Homo sapiens: one gene and its partner. The protein of the gene in region 2 purifies or fractionates together with the protein of the main gene of each other region. This does not show direct contact. Each region holds a gene or a part of one and is shown on either strand. Other genes may lie near its edges.

Region 1 (4,508 bases), on a different chromosome or scaffold from region 2:
AGGGCTGCAGTGAGGGGGCTGATATGAAAAGAAATAGATACTGAGGGAGATGGGTTAAAACTGCTTAACAAAAAGGAAATACCAACAAAGAAACAGGCAAGATTAAAAATAACACCAGTCTGTGCCCAGAAAGGTGAGATCCAGGTGAAGCATTCGTGGCTCCAGGGAAAACACTAGAGGCCAACACGTGAGCACACTCGTGAGACAGGGATGGCTAGTAGGAAGAGCTGACAGCCCCCAGCCAAGCAGGGAGACTTCTGTGAAATGGCCCTGAGGGACGAGCCCAGCTTCCAGGCTCCCACCCAACCTCAACGACCCACAAAGGGAGGCTGCCCTCCAGGAGGCCACATTCCTGTTCTCTGAGCCTTTGCCTATGCTGTTCCTTCTGCCCTGAATGCCCCCTACCCTCTCCCCTCCAGCCCCTGTGCCTAGCTCAGGCCTCCACCCTTGAGGCCATCCTGGAAGATGTCCCCGATTTTCCTGCCATCTTGGCACTGCTGTCCTTCATGTTAACTACCCACACACCAGTCCGTGTACCTGCTGAATGTTTGGATGGAGTTCCCCTGAGGGCAGAGACTGTGGCTTTTCACCAACATCTCTCTGGAGAGCTTTCTGCAATGGTGGTGCAGAGTAGGTACTGAGAACATGTGCAGAATGAACGCTTCTATTTTTATACAATGACAATTAGTTTCTCCCCCACCTTGCTGCCATGGTCATGTGTTTCTGCAACAGCAGATGTCCACTACATCAGTCAACATATTCTCTATCAAACCTCATTACTCCGCACATATGTGAAACTGATTTGACAATTTTGATTAGCAAACACTATAACCCTAAAACTCAAGCTGGTATCTTAACATATAATTGACAGTTTATTAAAAGGCAATCATTATATGGACATTTTAACAACAGAATACAATAATTCTTATCACCAATTCCTACACACGCACACACACGCGCATGCACACACACGGACTCTTTCTCATCTAGCATATATTAGTCTGCACATTGTGGCTGATGTATTCTGCCCTCTTTATAAAGCCAACTCTTTATAAAGCCACATTTCCCCAGCATGTTAAACAAAGCATGAAAGTCAATTTGAAGACACAGCCTTTCGAGTGGATCCCTTTAATTTGCTGGCTGTATTAAAAAGATAACATTAACATGCCTTTGGCAGATAGGAGGATATGCAGAATAAGACAATGTGCATACACACACACGCTCCTGTGATTTTAAACCGCAGGAGAAGGAGCTTCTTCCAAACTATCCCTCAGCATCCCTCTCCCCTTAAAATCTCATACTTTCCTCTCTTCTGTTGTTTTCTAACTAGGGCAATATGCTACCTCTATCCATTTCGTTTGTGTAGCAAGCACTCTGTTGATGCCCAGTTCATATAAAAATTCATGTCTAGAACCTTAAGAACAACCTACCAAGAAAGCAGCATCTAACAGATTTCTTTGCTGATAGTGATGAGGAATTTATCTATGAGACTGATGCACAAAATGAACTTAAATGTGGAGCTATTACTCACTTCAATTCACGGACGTCCACTGAGGTATAGGACAGCAGGGAAATCTTACTCCTGAATGCAAATGCTCACACTACTTACTGCTGACGTGAACACTCAGCTCACTCTGTCACAAACAAGATCTCTACACAATCACTTCTGCTTTGAAAATGAAATTAAATCTATATGGCTACTGTTGTATAGTCACCTCTCTAGTTGGGTCTATCTGCATTTATGAAACTGTCGCTTCTTCTCTAGGGGGAGAATCTAGCACAGAATGAATGAATGAATGAATGAATGAGAGATCAAGGACAGGGCAACAGAACAAGTGACTTATGTCATTAGTAGGCAAAGTAGACCTGGAGACAAACAGACAACCCATAGTTTCCCATCTGTAAAATGGGACAATCCTCATCATAAAGACATTACATCCACTATCATGTTATAAAAACAAAATAGGGCCGGGCGCGGTGGCTCACGCCTGTAATCCCAGCACTTTGGGAGGCCGAGGCGGGTGGATCATGAGGTCAGGAGATCGAGACCATCCTGGCTAACAAGGTGAAACCCCGTCTCTACTAAAAATACAAAAAATTAGCCGGGCGCGGTGGCGGGCGCCTGTAGTCCCAGCTACTCGGGAGGCTGAGGCAGGAGAATGGCGTGAACCCAGGAAGTGGAGCTTGCAGTGAGCCGAGATTGCGCCACTGCAGTCCGCAGTCTGGCCTGGGCGACAGAGCGAGACTCCGTCTCAAAAAAAAAAAAAAAAAAAAAAAAAAAAAAAAAAAAAAAAAAGATAATAATAGCTATTTTATTGAATCGTAAGGCATGCGATAATATATAACAAATGCCTGGTACATGGCAGTTGCTCAACAAGTGACAGTATTAGTACTGAGTAAATAACATTTGGCCCAAGACCAGTGAGTCATGCTGAAACTGCCAAAAGTAAGCAAAGTGAGTGTGCCCCTCAGAAGTGTCCTCATCCAGTCCATTGAAAAAGAAAAACTTTACTCCCTCTCACTACACAACTGGCAGCTCCCATAAAACTGCTAGGAAGCACACTGCATCTCCTTCCAGGACTTGAAATGGGTCGTGTTATGCAGAAAGCAAGTTATTTCCAGAAATATGCAATGTTAAGAAAATAAATCACATTCTATCTCCTTCAACATGTCAAAGGTCCACTGAAAACTCTTGCTAAGAACACCACAAAATCACGTTTTGTCATCCTCATCCGATGGCAACAAATACAGGTTGGATCAAGTGGTGGATGAGCCGGCCCTCCCTGTGCTCATGCCCTATTCTGTCCAAGAATCTACGGCAGCGGCCCTCCCTGTCCTCATGCCCTATTCTGTCCTAGAATCTACGGCAGCGCCCCTACAGTCTAGCCAATCACATCACTTCCAAACTCCTCAGCTGGGGCCCCTGCTGGTGTCCCGCCCATGCCTAAAATGCCCTCCTTCCCCTACCGTCTCCAGTTCTCTCCCCCCACCCCCTACCACCCTCTTGTAACTTTCACAGCCCATTTCAGCTGTGAACCCAAATGTAGTCCAAATGCATCGAATTCTAATAGTTTTAAATTGTGCAGTGTCGCACACACTTGAGTCTCTTATGGTGCTTAACACAGTGCTAGGGACATCATAGGTGCTCAAGAAACTTGTTGCTAGGAGCATAATAGCTGCTCGATAAAACCCTTCTTTTATCTACCAGTGATACTGAATCGCTGAACTGAGGTAAATTACTCCATGGATTCAATCCAAAGAACGCTTTTGTATTAATTACCAAACTACTTAAGGCAGGAATGTTTTGTCTTAATTATGTAGACTATTATTTTAATTGTCACTTCTCAACTAAATACTCCAACTCCACCCCAGGCTTGCAAAACTCTGCAAGCTGAATCTTCACAAACAAGGAGAGATTAAGGAAATATTCTTCAAGGTCTCCAACAGCATCCTGAAAGGGATCACTGAAGCGATTATGCGCATAACTCTTCAGCTTCCACATGCTGTCCGGAGGAATGCTCCAGGTATTTTGGTTTGAATTATCTACCTAGTCACCTCTACCCTCCCCTACTACCCTCTTGTAAGGTAAGGGATGCCCAAAGTGGTGTTTAGGGTTAAAGTGTTTCCAAATAGCAGGATTTGGAACTTGCCAAAAAGATAAATAAGAAACCAGCGGGGGAAAAAAATTGAAACCTTTGTCACCAAAATAATGTAAAAATGTTTGTCTTCGAAAAAATATATATCTATTTTAAATCTGCAACTGCTTTGCTAAGGTCTCAAGAACCCCAAAACTGAGGAACGTGGATAAAAGACTGGCAGAACCCCTCTGAGAGGTCCCTTCAACCCCGCGTTCTTAAAACATTTCTTTTCTTTGCCTGCAAAATGCAGCCTTCCCCCAGAATAATTCCATGTAAAAAGCCCCCACCCGCGAGGAAACATTAATCTACTTTGCAAACATGCGTTCCAGTCTGTGCCTTACTATTTTTTTTTCCACTCCTTCCACCCCCACCCCGCGTTTTTTGTACCTTGAGACAAATGTTTTTTTCCCTCAGAGTTGAAAGCTGTCCAAAAACAGGACCACACACGCCGCCGCCTCCGCAGCCCCGCGCTGCGCCCGCCCCCGGCCCTCCCCAGCGCGGCGGCCGCGGCCGCCGGGGGCGCGCACACTCCAGCCAGCCGGAGGGGTGGCCTCTGGCTCTCCCCGACTCCTTTTTCTTTGGACGCGGTGGGTGGGGGTGGGGGAGAGAAGAAAGCCGGGCCGCGGAGCGGGGCCGGGAGAGGCCAGCCCCGGGGCGCCTCTCGGGGCGCGGCCCAGGCGGACAGCGGCAGCGGCGGCGGGCCCGGGGCCCCCGGCGCGCAGAGTGGTCCGTCCCGGAGGGGCCCCGCGCCCCCGTCCCGCCCCCGCCGCTCTCTCCCACCACACCTCGGCCGGCGCAGCGCCCCGAGTAGATTACAGCGCGGCCTTTGTCGGGCGGGCCTGGCTCCCGGCCAGGCGCCCAAACAATAAA
Region 2 (5,461 bases):
CAGCAGCTATTCTGAAGAGTTGGAATAGATGAGTTTTGCCTGTTCGTGAACTGTATGAACATGGACTCCTACAGTATGTAGTCTTATGTTGGAGTTCTTGCACTGCTCAATAATGAGCATTGTAATAGACATAAGCCTGTGAGATTTATTCATGTTATTGAATAACATTTATTTATGTATACAGTACTAATTCATGCTTTGTAAATTGTTGTAGAGTCTTTTGTGCGGTTTGAAATTCATAATAATTCATTTTATTGGCACATTGGATACACAGTCTTTGGGGGAAAAAAGAAAATAACACTTCTTCCTACATTACTAGAAAATCAGATCCCAATGGCTATCTTAGGAAAACAACCATGACCTCATTTTTATTCACAGAACTGGGTTTATTCACTACTTGAAGGTATAATTACCTTCAGTTACAATTCCATAAACCAAATACTTTGAAAACTGTATTCATTTTTATGTGTGTGTTTTTAGGAGGGAGCCTCAAAATAGGGGAAAAGGACCATCTAAGGTAGCTTATATCCTTCATGCTTAGGACTAAATGCCGTAATCAACACTTAGCGTTGTACAGAAGTAACCACCAGTCCAGCATTAGTATAATATTCTTTGAGTTTAAAATGAAACAGTACAATGCTTTTCTGAAGAAAAAAGAAAAGTCCACCATAAAAGGAAGAAAGTGGAGCTAGGATGTTATACTGCAGGAAGATTTTGAGGAACAGGACCAAGCACTTATATCAGGAAGAAGAGTTTTGGCCACTAACCTATTAACAATTGTGGTCAGGCTATGCCTATACATTCAGAATTTGTTTGTATTGTTGAAATTCTCTAATATGCTAAATAAAATTTATTTCACAGACAGACAAGATGATTCAGTAGATGAAATCAGAAGGGTTTTTGTTTGTTTGTTTTAAATTTTGGAAGGGACTTTGGCTGTGGTTAATAGCTTGTATTTCTGTTATTGGAAATGTTGATTAAGGATTTTGTGGGTGTTCTGCTTGAACACTAGCCATTTTTCTCTCAGGAGACATTGTATTTTTCAACATTTATAATTTTATTAAATCTGACTATTCATAGCTCTTGACACAAGGTCATTCTTCACATACAGCCATATGCAGGATGGGTTCCTCTGGACTGGAGAAGGGCAAATTGTCCCCTTTTCTTCCTAAATCAGACCATCCGTGGTCAGGATTTCATTGGGGGTTGGGAGCGTTGAAATAGTGATACATGATTCATCTTTTGATCTATAGGCGTCCTCAAAGATGCAGATTATGTTTCAGAAGAAAGAAGAACTATCCAACAAATAGAGCTGCCTCATGTGAAGCAGTGCTGTTTGGAAGGGGCATGGACTCCTGATTCCTGGAAGTGTTGTAATGGCATTTGCAAAGGCTGCTGTGGGAAGAATCTCTTTCTTGGGTGCAACATTGAACCAAATAACCTCTAAGGCATTTGTAGGACTGAGGTTCCATGAAATAGGCTTTTATGGTATGCCTAGGCTACATACCCACCACGTACATGATTTTGGAGGTAGGAAATATGTTAAAAGTTACCAACAGCCATTGGATAAATACATTTTTTAAACCAGCTCCAGTTTAAAGTTGGAGATTGCCTCGACTTGCTGGCTCTTTTCACTTTAAATGTAATCCTTAGTTTATCACTAACAAGTAAATGTCGGGTATTCTTTCTTCCTTACTTAAATAGGGACTTTTTCAATATTCTAAGTGTATTGGTATCAGAAATGATAATACTTAAAAGTATAGCATGTACTACCTTTTTATATAGGTACACATCTGAAGCCATTTGTTGGCCCAGTTATTTATTCATTCCTACAACAAATTATATGTAAACATTAATAAATGTCCCTCTTGTCCCTCCTCCACTGCAACTTTTCTAAACTTGAGTTACAAGAGAGATAAATAACTCATATAGGAGGAGAAAGGCCGGTATCAGAGACGTGTCCAAGTATCAAAACCATATTCAAGATCTTTTCTGGGATCCATAGATATTTAACCATGTACACATCTTGTATCTGTAAATATAGTACTTTATGTTAATCACTGATATTTAAAATGATGGAAGGAACTGTGGGATCCTGAACCACCAAAATAATATTTTCTCCATTTTATAAAACAGAAAAGTATATTGAATTTTTACTGTTTTATATTTATGTATGCCCATCCATACCAATTCCATCCTCCCTGTAGCTTAGAAGTGGGCCTTCTTTATCTCTTGTCTGTTACCATTACCTTACCCCTCCATCCTCCTCCTCAAACTTTGGGAGAGGGACAGAGGAGATTCAGCATGTGAGATGAAAAAAATGCCTTTGCAACTCCTGCTTAAACTGCTACTAACTCATCCCCTTGTCTTCAGTTTTGGTTTGCCCCCTTCCAGATCATTGATTTTTCTTACATTTTGCCTGAGTAATGATCTTTCTGAAATGTAAATATGTGATCACGTGACTGCTTTCATTAAAATCCTTTAAAGTCCCTGAATTGCTCACTTGTTGAAGCCCAGGTCTTTAATTGGATGTACAGGGTTATATGCCTACTGGAAGCTTCTGCCATCCCGGCTGCTTTGCCTTCCATGAATATACCATGCTTTCTCGCAGGCTGGAAACGCATCTCTCCTGGCACTGATACGTATCATAATTGCATACGTGTCAGTCTCCCCTTTATTCCTTAAGGACAATGTGATTTTCCCCTATGTACCATTGGCCCACCCACCCCTTTCTTTGCACTCTGCTGAACAAGTACTAAACACTCAGATATCCTGGATGGCATTAACGTGCATTTGAATTTCTGGGTGAGCGAGTGTGTTCAACTGCATATTCTGATTCAGTAGGTCTGGGGTGGGGCCCAATATTCTTCCTTTCTAACAAGTTTCCAGATAATACTGATGAGCTGGGTGGAGCACACTGAGTAGAAAGATGCTGAACCATCTTCTCTAGATCCATGAATGATTTCAACACACGATTTTGCTCGTAAAAATTCAGTGACATCAATGACTCTCAAGTTCAGGGAGTGATACCACAGCTTCAAGTAATGAAGATAAACGAAAGCTTTAGATAAAGAAAAAAACAGTTACATATTGAAGATGCTGGGACATGCATTATCACACTATGACTGGAATCCTTGTCAAATATTTTGAATATTTTAACAATTTTATATATTTAAAATGTATGTAGTAGTTCTGTGCAACATTATTCAGTGCCCAGAGAGCTGATGTCATGTTTTGTCTTTTTGTATTTTGCAGGGGTTCTCCTGGGTATATAGGTACTAAAAAACATATTCAGGATTGTGTCTCTTGCCAGGGAAATTTCTGACAGTTACTGGCTTTTTACAGTATCAGAATAAAAGTAATTAGAATTTTTTATTTTACTGTAGTTTGGTATCTGTTCAGTGAGTAATTGTACACACTGCCTGGTTAGAGGTAAAATTGGCAAGGGGAACGAATGTTTAATGGATAAAATACTGCTTTTATCAGGCCATGAAATTATTGTAGTGACATCAGAACTTGGCAGTCTCTTATTCCAATAAAAAGAAAAATAGCATTGCAAGCTGGGGATAAGACATTTTTCCTGCCCATTTAATTTGGCTTCTTTTCATGATTTTGGCCTTAGGATGTGGGTATGACAAAACAACAACACAGTGAATAACAGGCAGTAACAATTAGGGAGTGAGCGTGGTTTCAGCTGGAATGGACATAGGGTTTATCAGTAACCTCTGTTTCCGTCATTCTCACTGTCCCTCTCCTGTTGGTGACTATGAGAGTATGAGAGTGGGTATGGGGAATCCTCGTTTAGAAAATGGGGTTAAACCTCACCATGTGGCTCGATATGGTATGCAATACATTACATAGCTTGCAATGTATTGAAAACATCTGATACTGGCTCATAAAATGATGATGTGGCTGAATGTCTGAATGTGATTATGTATGTGACAGTACAGTTTTGCAGGAAAGGTGCCATTTATCCCTCTGTGTAAAAACACCAGTCAAATAATATCAGATGACCGATCAGAGCGGTTGGATTTGATTTAGTGTTTCCTCCTTCCCATTTCATCCTATGCACTCTCACTGTGCAATTAGATTTCTAGATGTGGCCATGATATAACGACAGCTCATTATCAGGATTTCGGTTTGGTGTCCTAGCATCCGAGCAGTAGTTCCAGTAAACCCTGGGACTACTAAATCTGGAGGAGGTATTTTTATAGTTCTTAATAGATTACTAAACTCCTGAGTAGGGCCACATTAGAGTCTTAACTGCTATGTTGTACCCATGATTTACCTCCTGGGTGCATCTTACTGTGTGATCGCCTTTTTAAATGGGGTCATTTTATTGTTTCTTCCATTAAATCTTGGATGTTCATCCAAAAGGAAATGGCAGGTTTTCTTCTACAGTAATAAGAATTATAGTGAGGTTCTGCTGAGTTGGTTCTGGTGGGTGAAAGCATATTTTAAACCTAATTGTGAATACAGTCGTCCCTCAATATCCATGGGGGATCCATTCCAGGACATGACACCCCCTATTGCCTGTGGCTATCCAAATTCTTAGATGCTGAAGTTCCCTGTATTTGCATATAACTTATGCAGATCTTCCTGTTTAAATCATCTCTAGATTACTTATAATACCTAACACAATTTAAATGCTATGTAAATAGCTGTTATACAGTATATTTTTAATTTTTAATTTTTTTTTTTTTTTTGAGACGGAGTCTTGTTCTGTTGCCCAGGCTGGAGTGCAGTGGTGTGATCTTGGCTCACTGCAACCTCCGCCTCCCAGGTTCAAGCAATTCTCCTGCCTCAGCCTCCCAAGTAGCTGGGATTACAAGCACCTGCCACCATGCCCGGCTAATTTTTGTAGTTTTAGTAGGGACAGGGTTTCGCCATGTTGGCCAGGCTGGTCTTGAACTCTTGACCTCAAGTGATCCACCCACCTTGTCCTCCCAAAGTGCTGGGATTACAGGCGTGAGCCACCACGCGTGGCCTGTATTATTTTTTATTTTTATTTTCCAAATATTTTTGGTCTGTAGTTGGTTGAATCCCTGGATGAGGAACTGTGGATACCAAGTGTCAAGTGTGTATACCTCTACTTAACATATTTTCAAGTCATATTATAATTTGATTAGAATTGTTCTGATCTCTAAATCAGTAGTTTGATTTCTGTTTATTGAAAATTAGGCATACTTTCTTTTTCATAGTATGAGTCCTTTTTAAGGTTACAATAAAAGTAAATAGATCAGATTTCTACCCTGAGTTCCCAATTCCAAGCTCTAGTCACCATGTTTTAAATTATTTTATATTTTGGTTGGGTTCCTCTCTTAAAAGAAATTGCAGTAATCATGTTTTGACTGTATGTAGGTCTTTTGTATAATTTTCATAATACATTTAGAGCTAAAGTTTTTTTTGTTTTGTTTTGTTTTGTTTTGTTTTGTTTTAATCCCATGGCTAACTAAAGCCA

What was found. The genes of interacting proteins can lie anywhere in the genome.
Region 1: the proteins of CDON (region 2) and PTCH1 purify together in Homo sapiens (co-immunoprecipitation; one study listed by IntAct). This does not show direct contact.

The regions. Positions count from the first base shown.
Region 1 is NC_000009.12:95,501,769-95,506,276, forward strand, and holds part of PTCH1 (protein patched homolog 1), read right to left. Parts: intron 1-4,508.
Region 2 is NC_000011.10:126,052,068-126,057,528, reverse strand, and holds part of CDON (cell adhesion molecule-related/down-regulated by oncogenes isoform 2 precursor), read left to right. Parts: exon of another isoform or gene 1-1,530; intron 1,531-5,461. UniProt on the Homo sapiens protein: Component of a cell-surface receptor complex that mediates cell-cell interactions between muscle precursor cells. Promotes differentiation of myogenic cells.